Regions from separate parts of the Homo sapiens genome. Here region 1 is linked to region 2. The links come from fine-mapping of genetic effects on gene expression. A gene starts in region 2. The other region holds a variant in brackets. All regions are shown on one strand. Distances are between the middles of the regions. Region 1 overlaps LOC105371059 (a long non-coding RNA gene). Region 2 holds the start of ZSCAN32 (zinc finger and SCAN domain containing 32).

Evidence for each region.
Region 1: its variant is fine-mapped to the expression of ZSCAN32 in monocytes after R848 (Quach 2016, PIP 0.95).

The regions. Positions count from the first base shown.
Region 1 is chr16:3,370,080-3,375,598 of GRCh38, forward strand. The region is part of intron 1 of LOC105371059 (a long non-coding RNA gene); the gene reads left to right. It also overlaps the pseudogene MTND1P8 and the pseudogene MTRNR2L4. Among named protein-coding and RNA genes, the nearest start is that of OR2C1, 17 kb to the left of the region's middle. The variant C/CAAA (reference allele first, on the strand shown) is at 3,190.
Region 2 is chr16:3,399,058-3,404,057 of GRCh38, forward strand. It overlaps ZSCAN32 (zinc finger and SCAN domain containing 32), which reads right to left and starts at 1,947. Exons shown (of 7, transcript NM_001284527.2): 1 at 1,888-1,947. ZNF174 (zinc finger protein 174) reads left to right here and starts at 2,158. Exons shown (of 3, transcript NM_003450.3): 1 at 2,158-3,349. The coding sequence starts at 2,948. It overlaps LOC105371059 (a long non-coding RNA gene), which reads left to right. Exons shown (of 4, transcript XR_007064949.1): 3 at 1-469; 4 at 574-612. RefSeq lists silencers at 1,585-1,734, 2,285-2,504 and an enhancer at 1,708-2,207.

The sequences.
Region 1 (5,519 bases), 29 kb before region 2:
GCTGTTTGAATTCATAAAAACAGGGTGGTTAAAGAAAGGTCTTGGTAATGAAATTTGTGGTATAGAGTTCTGGTGAATATATAGTGTGTAGTGCTCCTAGAAAAATGGTAATAGTTAAGTCATTTATTACGATAATATTCATATATTCTGCTATAAAGAAGAGGGCAAATGAACCTGTGGCATATTCGATGTTAAAGCCTGAGACTGACTCTGATTCTCCTTCTGTTAGTTCAAAAGGGGCTCGGTTTGTTTCTGCTAGTGTGGAGATAAATCATATTATGGCTAGGGGTTATGATGGTAGAAGCAGTCAGAGGAATTCTTGCGTTGTGATAAATGCATGTAAGTTAAATGAGCCACTTATTAGTAGAACTGATAAAAGGATAATGGCTAGAGTGACTTGATATGAAATTGTCTGGGCTACAGCTTGTAATGTGCCGATTAGTGTGTAATTTGAATTAGATGCTCATCCTGATCATAGGATAGAGTAGATGGCTAGGCTTGATGTGGCTAGTATAAATAGGAGGCCTATATTAAAATTAATTAGAGCATCTGGTATGCGGAGGGGAGTTCACAAGAGGAGAGCGATCAAAACAGCTAGGGTTGGAGCAGTAGTATAAAAGGTAATAGTAGACGCTGAGGGACGTAAGGGTTCTTTGACGAAAAGTTTTATTGCATCAGCGAATGGTTGAAGCAGTCCATGGGGACCTACAATGTTAGGTCCTTTGCGTAATTGTATGTAGCCTAAGAGTTTTCATTCAATGAGTGTAAGGAATACTATAGCGATTAAAGTGGTAATAATAAGTAGGAGAAGATTGATTATAGGCATATTGTTAAGAAGAGGAGTTGAACCTCTGATTTTAAAGTTTTAAGTCTTAGGTAATTGCCGGGGTCTGCCATCTTAAACACTGTTTAAGATGGTAGAGTGTGTGATGATTTGTTAGATTGAGACAGCATCATTTATGGTGGCAAGGGTGCTTTGTGAAATGGGCCCTGCTTCTCTTGTCCTTTTGTACTAGGAGAAATGTTAAATAGTTAGAAACCGACCTGGATTACTCCGATCTGAACTGAGATCACATGGGACTTTAATAGTTGAAAAAACGAACCCTTAATAGCGGCTACACTATTAGGATGTCCTGATCCAGCATTGAAGCTGTAAACCCTGTTGTTGATATGGACCCTAGAATAGGATTGTGCCGTTATCCCTAGGATAACTTATTCCGTTGATCAAATTATTGGGTCAGTGTGTGTTAACTTGCTTAGACTAGTGCGGTCTTAGTTTAGGTAGTTTGGAGGTTGAATTATGCTCTGAAATAAAAGAAAATTTTTATTTTTTTTGTTTTTTATTTATTTATTTTTTAAGACAGAGTCTGGCTCTGTTGCCAGGCTGGAGTGCAGTGGCACGATCTTGGCTCACTGCTATCTCCACCTCCCGGGTTAAAGCCATTCTCCTGCCTCAGTCTCCTGAGTAGCTGGGATTACAGGCACATACCACCACACCCAGCTAATTTTTGTATTTTTAGTAGAGACGGGATTTCACCATATTGGCCGGGATGGTCTCGATCTCCTGACCTCGTGATCTGCCTGTCTCAGCCTCCCAAAGTGCTGGGATTATAGGCGTGAGCCACCACGCCGGGCACCCCAACCAAAATTTTTAATGCAAAGATAGTAGGCTAGGGCCTGTAGGCTTTTTTTGAGTTTCTATTTGCATTAATGAATTAAAGCTCTATAGAGTCTTCTCATCTTATTTGTTTATACTGCCTCTTCATGGATAGGTCAATTTCACTGACTGAAAGTAAGAGACAGCTGAACCCTTGTGTGGCCATTCATACAAGTCCCTATTTAGGGAACAAGTGATTATGCTACCTTTACAATGTCAGGATACCGCAGCTGTTGAACATATGTCACTGGGCAGGCGGTGCCTCTAATACTGGTGAAGCCAGAGGTGATGTTTTTGGTAAACAGGTGGGGTAAGATTTCCCGAGTTCCTTATACTTTTTGTAATCTTTCCTTAGAGCATACCTGTGTTGGATTAATGGTATAAATAATAGGGTATTTATTCTTTATTAATATTAGGCTGTTAACTATCAGTGGATTCTGGTTTGATATAAGCTTATGCAATGGAGAATGTCTTCGTGTTACTAATATTAACATTATTGCTTCTATTAAGTAATAGATTAGTCTAATGTAATGTTAGGAGTTCAATAGAGTGATTAGGATTTAAAATAATTGGATGTTGAGCTTGAAAGCTTTCTTTTTTTCTTTTTTCTTTTTTTTTTGAGACGGAGTTTCGCTTTTGTTGTCCAGGCTGGAGTGCAGTGACGCAATCTTGGCTCACTGCAACCTCCGAGTCCCGGGTTCAAGCGATTCTCCTGCCTCAGTCTCCCGAGTAGCTGGGATCACAGGCATGCACCACCATGCCTGGCTAATTTTGTATTTTTAGTAGAGATGGAGTTTCTCCATGTTGGTCAGGCTGGTCTCAATCTGCTGACCTCAGATGATCTGCCCACCTCGGTCTCCCAAAGTGCTGGGATTACAGGTGTGAGCCACCGCACCTGGCCTTGAATGCTTTCTTAATCGGTAGCTGCTTTTGGGCCAACTACGGTGGTAATATTTTTTACTCTCTGGAGGAAGGTTATTTCCTAGGGTCTAAACAGCTGTCCCAAAGAGGGACAATATTAAGGATGGGAGATTTGTCTCCTGTAAAATGCATCCTTTCTCCTCTGCAGGTTATGTTCACCTGGTCCTACTCTGAATGAGAATCTGCTGGTTTTTGAAAGGCCTGCTCTGTGATGGAGGGATTGCAATGCCCAGCAAGGTGTGGGCACTTTAGTTAAGTCCTCAGTGTCTGAGTCACACCTCTCCCCCAGACAGATCAATACAGCTGGCTTTCTGCTCGAGAGACGGCCAGAGGCCAGGCGCAGTGGCTCACGCCTGTAATCCCAGCACTTTGGGAGGCCCAGGCAGGTGGATCACGAGGTCAGGAGTTTGAGACCAGCCTGACCAACATGGTGAAACCCCGTCTCTACTGAAAATACAAAAATTAGCCGGGTGTGGGTGGCGCGTGCCTGTAATCCTAGCTACTCAGGAGACTGAGGCAGGAGAATCGCTTGAATCCGGGAGGCGGAGGTTGCAGTGAGCCGAGATCGCACCGCTATACTCCAGCCTGGGTGACAGAGTGAGACTCCATCT[C/CAAA]AAAAAAAAAAAAAAAAAAAAGAGAGAGAGGGAGGGGGCCAAAGTGGGACCAGCTTGGGGCTGGGTACTGTGCTGCACGGTGTGACAGCTGTGGATCTGGGGTGGGAGCAGCCACAGACCTTCCTGCACTGCCCTAAGCCAACAGGACCCTGATGTGCTCTGTGTCCCTGGCAGCTGTGGTGCTGAGACCTTGACTGTCGAGGGGGTTTGGTTTACAGATTATTTTGTCACCGAGGTAATGAGCATAGTATCCAATAGGTAGTTTTCCAGTCCTCACCCTCCTCCCACTCTCTACCCTCTAGTAGGCCCCAGTGTCTGCTGTTCCCCTCTTTGTATCCATGTGTACTTCTAAGCTCCCGGTTACAAGTGAGAACACGTGTTATTTGGGTTTCTCTTCCATTGTTAATTCGCTTAAAATAATGGCCTCCAGCTCCATCCATGTTGGTGCAAAGGACATGATTTAATTCTTTTTTATGGTGGTGTAGTATCCCATGGTGTATATGTATGACATTTTGTTTATCTACTTCACCATTGATGGGCATCTAGATTGATTCCATGTCTTTGCTATTGTGAATAGCGCTACAATGAACATATGTGTGCGTGTGTCTTTTTGGTAGAACGATTATTCCTTTGGCTGTATGCCCAGTAATGGGATTGCTGGGTTGAATGGTAGCTCTAAGTTCTTTGAGAAATCTCCAAACTGATTTCCACAGTGGCTGAACTAATGTACATTCCCACCAGCAGTGTATAAGCATTCCCTTTTCTCTGCATCCTCACCAGCATCTGTCATTTTTTGACATTTTAGTAATAGCCATTCTGACTGCTTTGAGATGGTATCTCATGGGGATTTTGATTTGCATTTCTCTTATGATTAGTGATGAGTATTTTTTCACGTGCTTCTTGGCCACATGAATATCTGACTGCTCTTCTAATTCTGTTCTGCTCAGCTGCACTTGCCCCGCTCCACGTTCAAGTGTTTAGCTCTGGCTTTCAGGAATCTCTGTTACCATACCTCTGCTCTCTGAGCCCATACAGGGATTTCTGAAGGGATGAGGTAGGGTGTCAGTGATAGGGTTTTTTTTTCTCTGGGATTATGGGGGGAGTTGCCAAGCTCCTATTAGAGCCAATGAAGCCCCCTTCCTCAGGGACTTTCCCAAGAGAAGAGCCAGAGCTCATACTCAGGACCATTCAGACCATAAGGCCTTATAGAGGAACCCAGTGACTCCAAGAAATGGTGAGACACAAAAGAGTCTCAGGCTGGAAGGGGAAGAATCCAGGGATGAGAGCTCATCAGTGCCTGTGACATCATAGACATGACCGTACAGTTCTGTCATGACCAGAATTGGGGGAAAGAAGCAGGTGAAATGGTGGTGCAGCTGCCAGACTGAGACAGCTCAGTTCCTTATCTAAGCTTTGTCATGTCCTCCAGTCCTCCCTTCAGAAAGGCCCATATTCCATGATAGCCCCTAGAAGGGTCATGTCTTGGTGTTTTACACAGAACTCTTTGGGTTTCTCCATTAACTTAGCTACTGTGCCCAGCAGCCACCAGAGGCCCCAGAAGAAGAAACCAGCAGGGGATCTGGCTGCCTGGGTTCCTCGGGGGTGGTCTCACCATCAGGGGTGGGTGAGACCACCACAGCCACACTGTGAAAGTTTCAGAGTTTTCACTACTTACAGATCCTCAAGATAGGCAGGGTGACCAGAGAGAGGCAGACAGCAGTCCTCAGTTCCAGGTCTTATGTAGTGACAGCAGCTGCACACTTGTGGGAGAGGACTTCTGTTAAAGGCTTATTTGGGGGTAGGATGTCCTAATTTCATGGAATTACTTTCCACTGAGTCCTTCAACCACTTCTAGCACCAAAGGTAGTTGAGCAGTTTGGCATGAGGCTGGAGTTAAAACAGGGCTCTGCAGAGCAACTTCTTGTCTATCTTGGTCAGCCCTTGCCAGGCAACAATCAACTGTGGTTTCTTCATTACTCCTCAGACACTTGGGACATTCATGGTGACCTATTGGCACCCAAGGAAGAGAACCTGATTTTAATTTGGACTGATAAGCAAGTTTTCTGAACAGGTTTATAGGGATTAGTTTAGTCTGGACAGAGTGAGCCGGAATCAAAAGATACTGTTAATACCAGAGGACTAGAAGATCCCATGTGGAGATGTCAGGTGGCTTAGCCATTGAGAAAGAATGACAGTAGATCTGAAATGGTCCAGAGCCCAGATATTCAACAAAGGCTAAGAGCCAAGGTGAGAGGGTAAAGGGAAGGTGTGAACGAACGGGTGAAGCCCCACTGTGTGCTTGGCCAGCCCCACAGAGCTCTCTGCTGGTG
Region 2 (5,000 bases):
TAAAAATACAAAAAAATTAGCTGGGCATGGTGGCACGCACCTGTAGTCGCAGCTACTCGGGAGGCTGAGGCAGGAGAATCGCTTGAACCCGGGAGGCGGAGGTTGCAGTGAGCTGTGATCACGCCATTGCACTCCAGCCTGGGCAACAAGAGCGAGACTGTCTCAAAAAAAGAAAAAGTCCCTCTCATTGGTTCTGGTGGGGATATTAATTACAATACCCACTTCCCCAGAAGTGGGCATATGACACACAGCTAGGCCTATCAAAATTCTTTTCTCAGATTTTACATGAGAGGTAGGGAAAGCTCTTCATTTTCTAGGAATTGGTAAATTGGGCAAATGTAAGATCAGAGTTGTCTCCAACTATGTCCCACTCTCTACTCCACTCTTCCATCACAGGAGTGAGCCTGTTTACAAGAGGACAATATACTCAAGTCTTGACAACATGTTTGGATCTCCAAGGCCAGTTTATGTAAGGCAATATTTTTTTAAGAGTTAATTTTAAAAATAGTTTTATATAATTTAAAATTAATAAATAACTTTTAAAAATAATTTTATTTGTTTTTTTATCTTTAGAGATGGAGTCTCACTCTGTTGCCCAGGCTGGTCTCAAACTCCTGAACTCAAGCAATCCTCCCACCTCAACCTCCCAAAGTGTTAGGATTACAAGTATAAGCCACCATGCCCGACCTTAAAAATAATTTTAAATAGAAGCTAACTTTTGTATTTTTTGTAGAGGTGGAGTTTCACTATGTTGCCCAGGCTGGTCTCAAACTCCTGTGCTCAAGTGATCCTCCCACCTTGGCCTCCCAAAGTGCTGGGATTACAGGTGTGAGCCACTGCACCCGCGAAGGCAGTCTTTTTTAATGAGTTTGTGTTGGTTTTTATCTACTTAAAACACAGATTAAAGCAGATCGTAATTTACATTTTCTCCAGGGGCTGATACACCCTCACCATGTGGTATTAAAATGGATCCAGCATGCACAACAAGATGAATATACTCAGGACTACTGAGCTGTACACTTAAAAATGGTTATGATGGTAAATGTTTTTTAAAAATTAAAGAAATTTTTTTATATTTTAAAAATGGATTTGGGTTCCCTTTTCTCAAGGAACTTGAACTGCCTTCACTTAAATTCTCTTTACATTTCAGTGCTTCTAGAGATAGAGAAATCAAGGGCATTATTATTGTTAGCACTGCTTTCTAGCCAAAAAGAAACTGAGAGCGATGAAGTATCTTGCCTAAAGCATCACACAGCACAGCTCCTAGGCAGCAAGGCCAGGACTAGAACCAGCACCCCTTGCCTTCATTATGTTCATCCTGTGCCTTACCTGGCTGAAGAAGAATTTAATAAAAGCTCTTCTAACTTCATGCAGAAGGCGGAACCTGCACCCTTCTTGACCCCTTTTGACCCCTTACCTCCCACTCATCGTTAAATTTTAAAATGCTGTTCTCTGAAAATTTTACTTCACTCTAGCGATGGCCCAAACACTCGGAAAAAAATGTAGCATGAGGATGGGGAGCCAGGTTGATAGGTTTTTCACTTAGTTAACTATTTATTGAGTACTCAGAACGCACTCGGTGCCAGGGCTAGGCACTGTGGATGAGTAGGGAGTGGGCGAGACAGGGACGAGATGAGCAGGGTCAAGGCCAGGGGGTCCCGGGGCGCCGGCGCTCAGGCTCGGGGTGATCCGCACGGTGGGAGCGGGGCACGGTGATCGCGGCGCGTCTGGGGACGCCCGGCCTGAGGGAGGCTGCCTGTCCCAAGGAGACGCCCATCGGGGCCGGACCCGAACGCCTCGGAGAAGACTCCCAGCGGGGAGGGGCTCCTCGGCCGTCGCAGGGCCCAGCGGCTAATCCCGCCGGCCGCAAGGAAGCGGAGAACTCACCGGACACCAGCACTCGCGACTCCACAAACTCCCTCAGCCTCCGGGCCGGAAGTCAGCGGCGCGATTCGCTCCGCCCATTACGCACGCCCCTGCGCAGGCCCGCAAGCCGAATTGCCGGACTGCAGCTCCCGGGATGCACTGCGACGGTATTGACAGGCGCAGCAACCAATAGACGGTAGAGAATGCCCTTGGCAGGAGGCGGGCCCTGTCAGTAGTTGTCCTCAGCAGCTAGTGGGCGTCTCCGCAGCGAGTGGCATCGGCCCCGCCCCCAGCCCGTGCTCGCCGGTGTCGGGTCCTAAGTCCCTCGGTCTTGGGTTCCCGGAGAGGTGAGTCGGCTGCAGGTGGGTGCGGGGCGCCGGGCTGTTCGGGGTACCGGTGTCGCAGTCGCCAGTCCGAGCTCACACCGGGCGTGGAGTTCAGCTGCGCATCGGGTTGCGGCAGCTTCGCCAGGCCTGGGGCTGGCTGGGCCGCGGGGCCGCCCTGGAGGCCGGAGCCACTGGGCCTGCGGCGCCTCGGCAGCGAGCAGCCGCTTTGCTCGCGTGCAGGAGGCTGTTCGCTACCTCACACCCCCGGCTGGCGCTGTGGCCTCGCTTAGCTCTACCGTTTAGCACCCGGCGACATGCACCCGGTCGGTTTCCGCCAGGATGCGGGAGAGTTGGGGCAAGCTACCTGCGACAGCTTGAACTTTTCCTAGGGATTCCGCTCCACCCGCCGGTTAGAGCGTATTGCTCATTAAATCCGAGACCTGTGTGCTTGCTACTGAAATAAAAGAAGTATTTTTTCCCCAGAGTCCTTTTAGGACGTTATGACTTTTCTCCTTTGCAAGACTGCAAAAAACTGACAAGAAGACAAAACTCTTCCCACTCCCAGGGACCGCGTTGTCTTGAGTTTGGCTAGTAAAGGCTAGCAAGTGAGGCTTTGTCTCTGCATCCCGTTCCCCCTAACATCCTCAGAGAACCTTCGTTTCTAGAATCTTTCTAGTATTCAGAGACTTCTCCAGGGTCATGATCCCAAAGGCTTAACCCGTTTACAAGGAGAGAGTTGTCTCCTGACGCCCAAAATGGCAGCTAAAATGGAGATAACTTTAAGCTCCAACACTGAAGCTTCCTCCAAGCAAGAGAGACACATAATAGCCAAACTAGAAGAGAAACGGGGCCCTCCTCTGCAAAAAAACTGCCCAGATCCTGAGCTCTGCCGCCAGAGCTTCAGACGCTTTTGTTATCAAGAGGTGTCTGGACCCCAAGAGGCTCTCTCCCAGCTCCGACAGCTCTGCCGTCAGTGGTTGCAACCCGAGCTGCACACCAAGGAGCAGATTTTGGAGCTTCTGGTGATGGAGCAGTTCCTGACCATCCTGCCCCCGGAGATCCAGGCTCGGGTCAGGCATCGATGTCCAATGAGCAGCAAGGAGATTGTGACCCTCGTGGAAGATTTTCACAGAGCATCCAAGAAACCAAAGCAGTGGGTAAGGAGGGTCCTCTCCCATCATCCTGGGGATTTCTTTTTCTTTTCTTTTTTTTTTTTTTTCTTTTTTTGAGACGGAATCTTGCTCTTTCGCCCAGGCCCGAGTGCAGTGGCGCTATCTCGGCTCACTGCAAGCTCCGCCTCCCGGGTTCACGCCATTCTCCTGCCTCAGCCTCCCGAGTAGCTGGGACTACAGGCGCCCGCCACCGCGCCCGGCTAATTTTTTGTATTTTTAGTAGAGACAGGGTTTCACCGTGTTAGCCAGGATGGTCTCGATCTCCTGACCTCGTGATCCGCCCGCCTCGGCCTCCCAAAGTGCTGGGACTACAGGTGTGAGCCACCGTGCCCGGCCGATTTCTTTTTCATCTGGGTAATGTTTGGTATCTGGATCTCTCCCTATTTAAGTCTCAGAAGTGGACTGGATGGCTTCAGAAGTTGCTTCCAGCCTCTATCTGGGAACCTATCCTGAGTTATTAACAGGTTTTTAGAAAATCCAACTACTGATACCCAGTGAGGCAACAGAGGACCAAGGTTCTTACCATTCCTTTATGCACCTTGTGTCACCAGAAGTAATTGTAAGGTTCTTAAATCCCTTCTGTCAGCTCTTCCCCCACCCAACTTAGTTTTCCTACTAGCAGAATTCTTAGCAGATAGGGTCACCCTGTTGGGTAGCAGTTGGACTTTGGGGAACTTCATTTCATTGGAAGTTCTAGCTTATTGTCTTTCCAGTGTTTAGCTTATAGTCTTTTTTTTTTTTTTTTTTTTTTTTTTTTTTTTTTTTTGAGATGGAGTCTTGCTGTGTTTCCCAAGCTGGAGTGCAGTGGTGCCATTTCAGCCCACTGCAACCTCTGCACCCCAGGTTCAAGCGATTCTCAGGTCTCAGCCTCCTGAGTAGCTGGGTTTACAGGTGCCTGCCACCACGCCCAGCTAATTTTTGTACTTTTTAGTAGAGAGGGGGTTTCACTATGTTGGCCAGGCTAGTCTCGAACTCCTGACCTCAAGTGATCCTCCCGCCTTGGCCTCTCAAAGTGCTGGGATTACAGGCGTGAGCCACCACACCTGGCCTAGCTTTTTGTCTTTGATTTTTTTTTTTTTTTTTGAGACTGGGTCTCACTGTGTTGCTGAGGCTGGAGGGCAGTGGCACGATCTCAGCTCGCTGCAACCTCCATGTCCAGCTCAAGTGTTCCTCACACCTCAGCCTCTCAAGTAGCTGGGACTGCAGGTACATGCCACCATGCGTGGCTAATTTTTGTACTTTTGTAGAGACAGGGTTTCTCCACATTGCCCAGGCTGGTCTTGAACTCTTCTTGGGCCCAGGCGATCCGCCCGTCTTGACCTCCCAAAGTGCTGGGATTACAGGAGTGAGCCACACAATGCCTGACTAGCTTATTGTCTTTGGATCAGGAAGTTACAGTTCAACTGGCCAGCGTTGCCATTGCTTGCCACTCCCCGCCCCGAAGTCAGACCCCAGTCAGGACCTAGGCAAGAAGCAAACGGCAGGTACTTCGGAAAATAGAACTTGTTAGGGAATGAAGGTGGGGTGGTCCTCTTAGACCCCTACTACTACTGGGATCTCCTTACCAGGAAAGCCTTTGGCAGAACAATGTATTAGGTAAGAAGGACTTTTAACAGCCCCTCACCATACTGCTTCC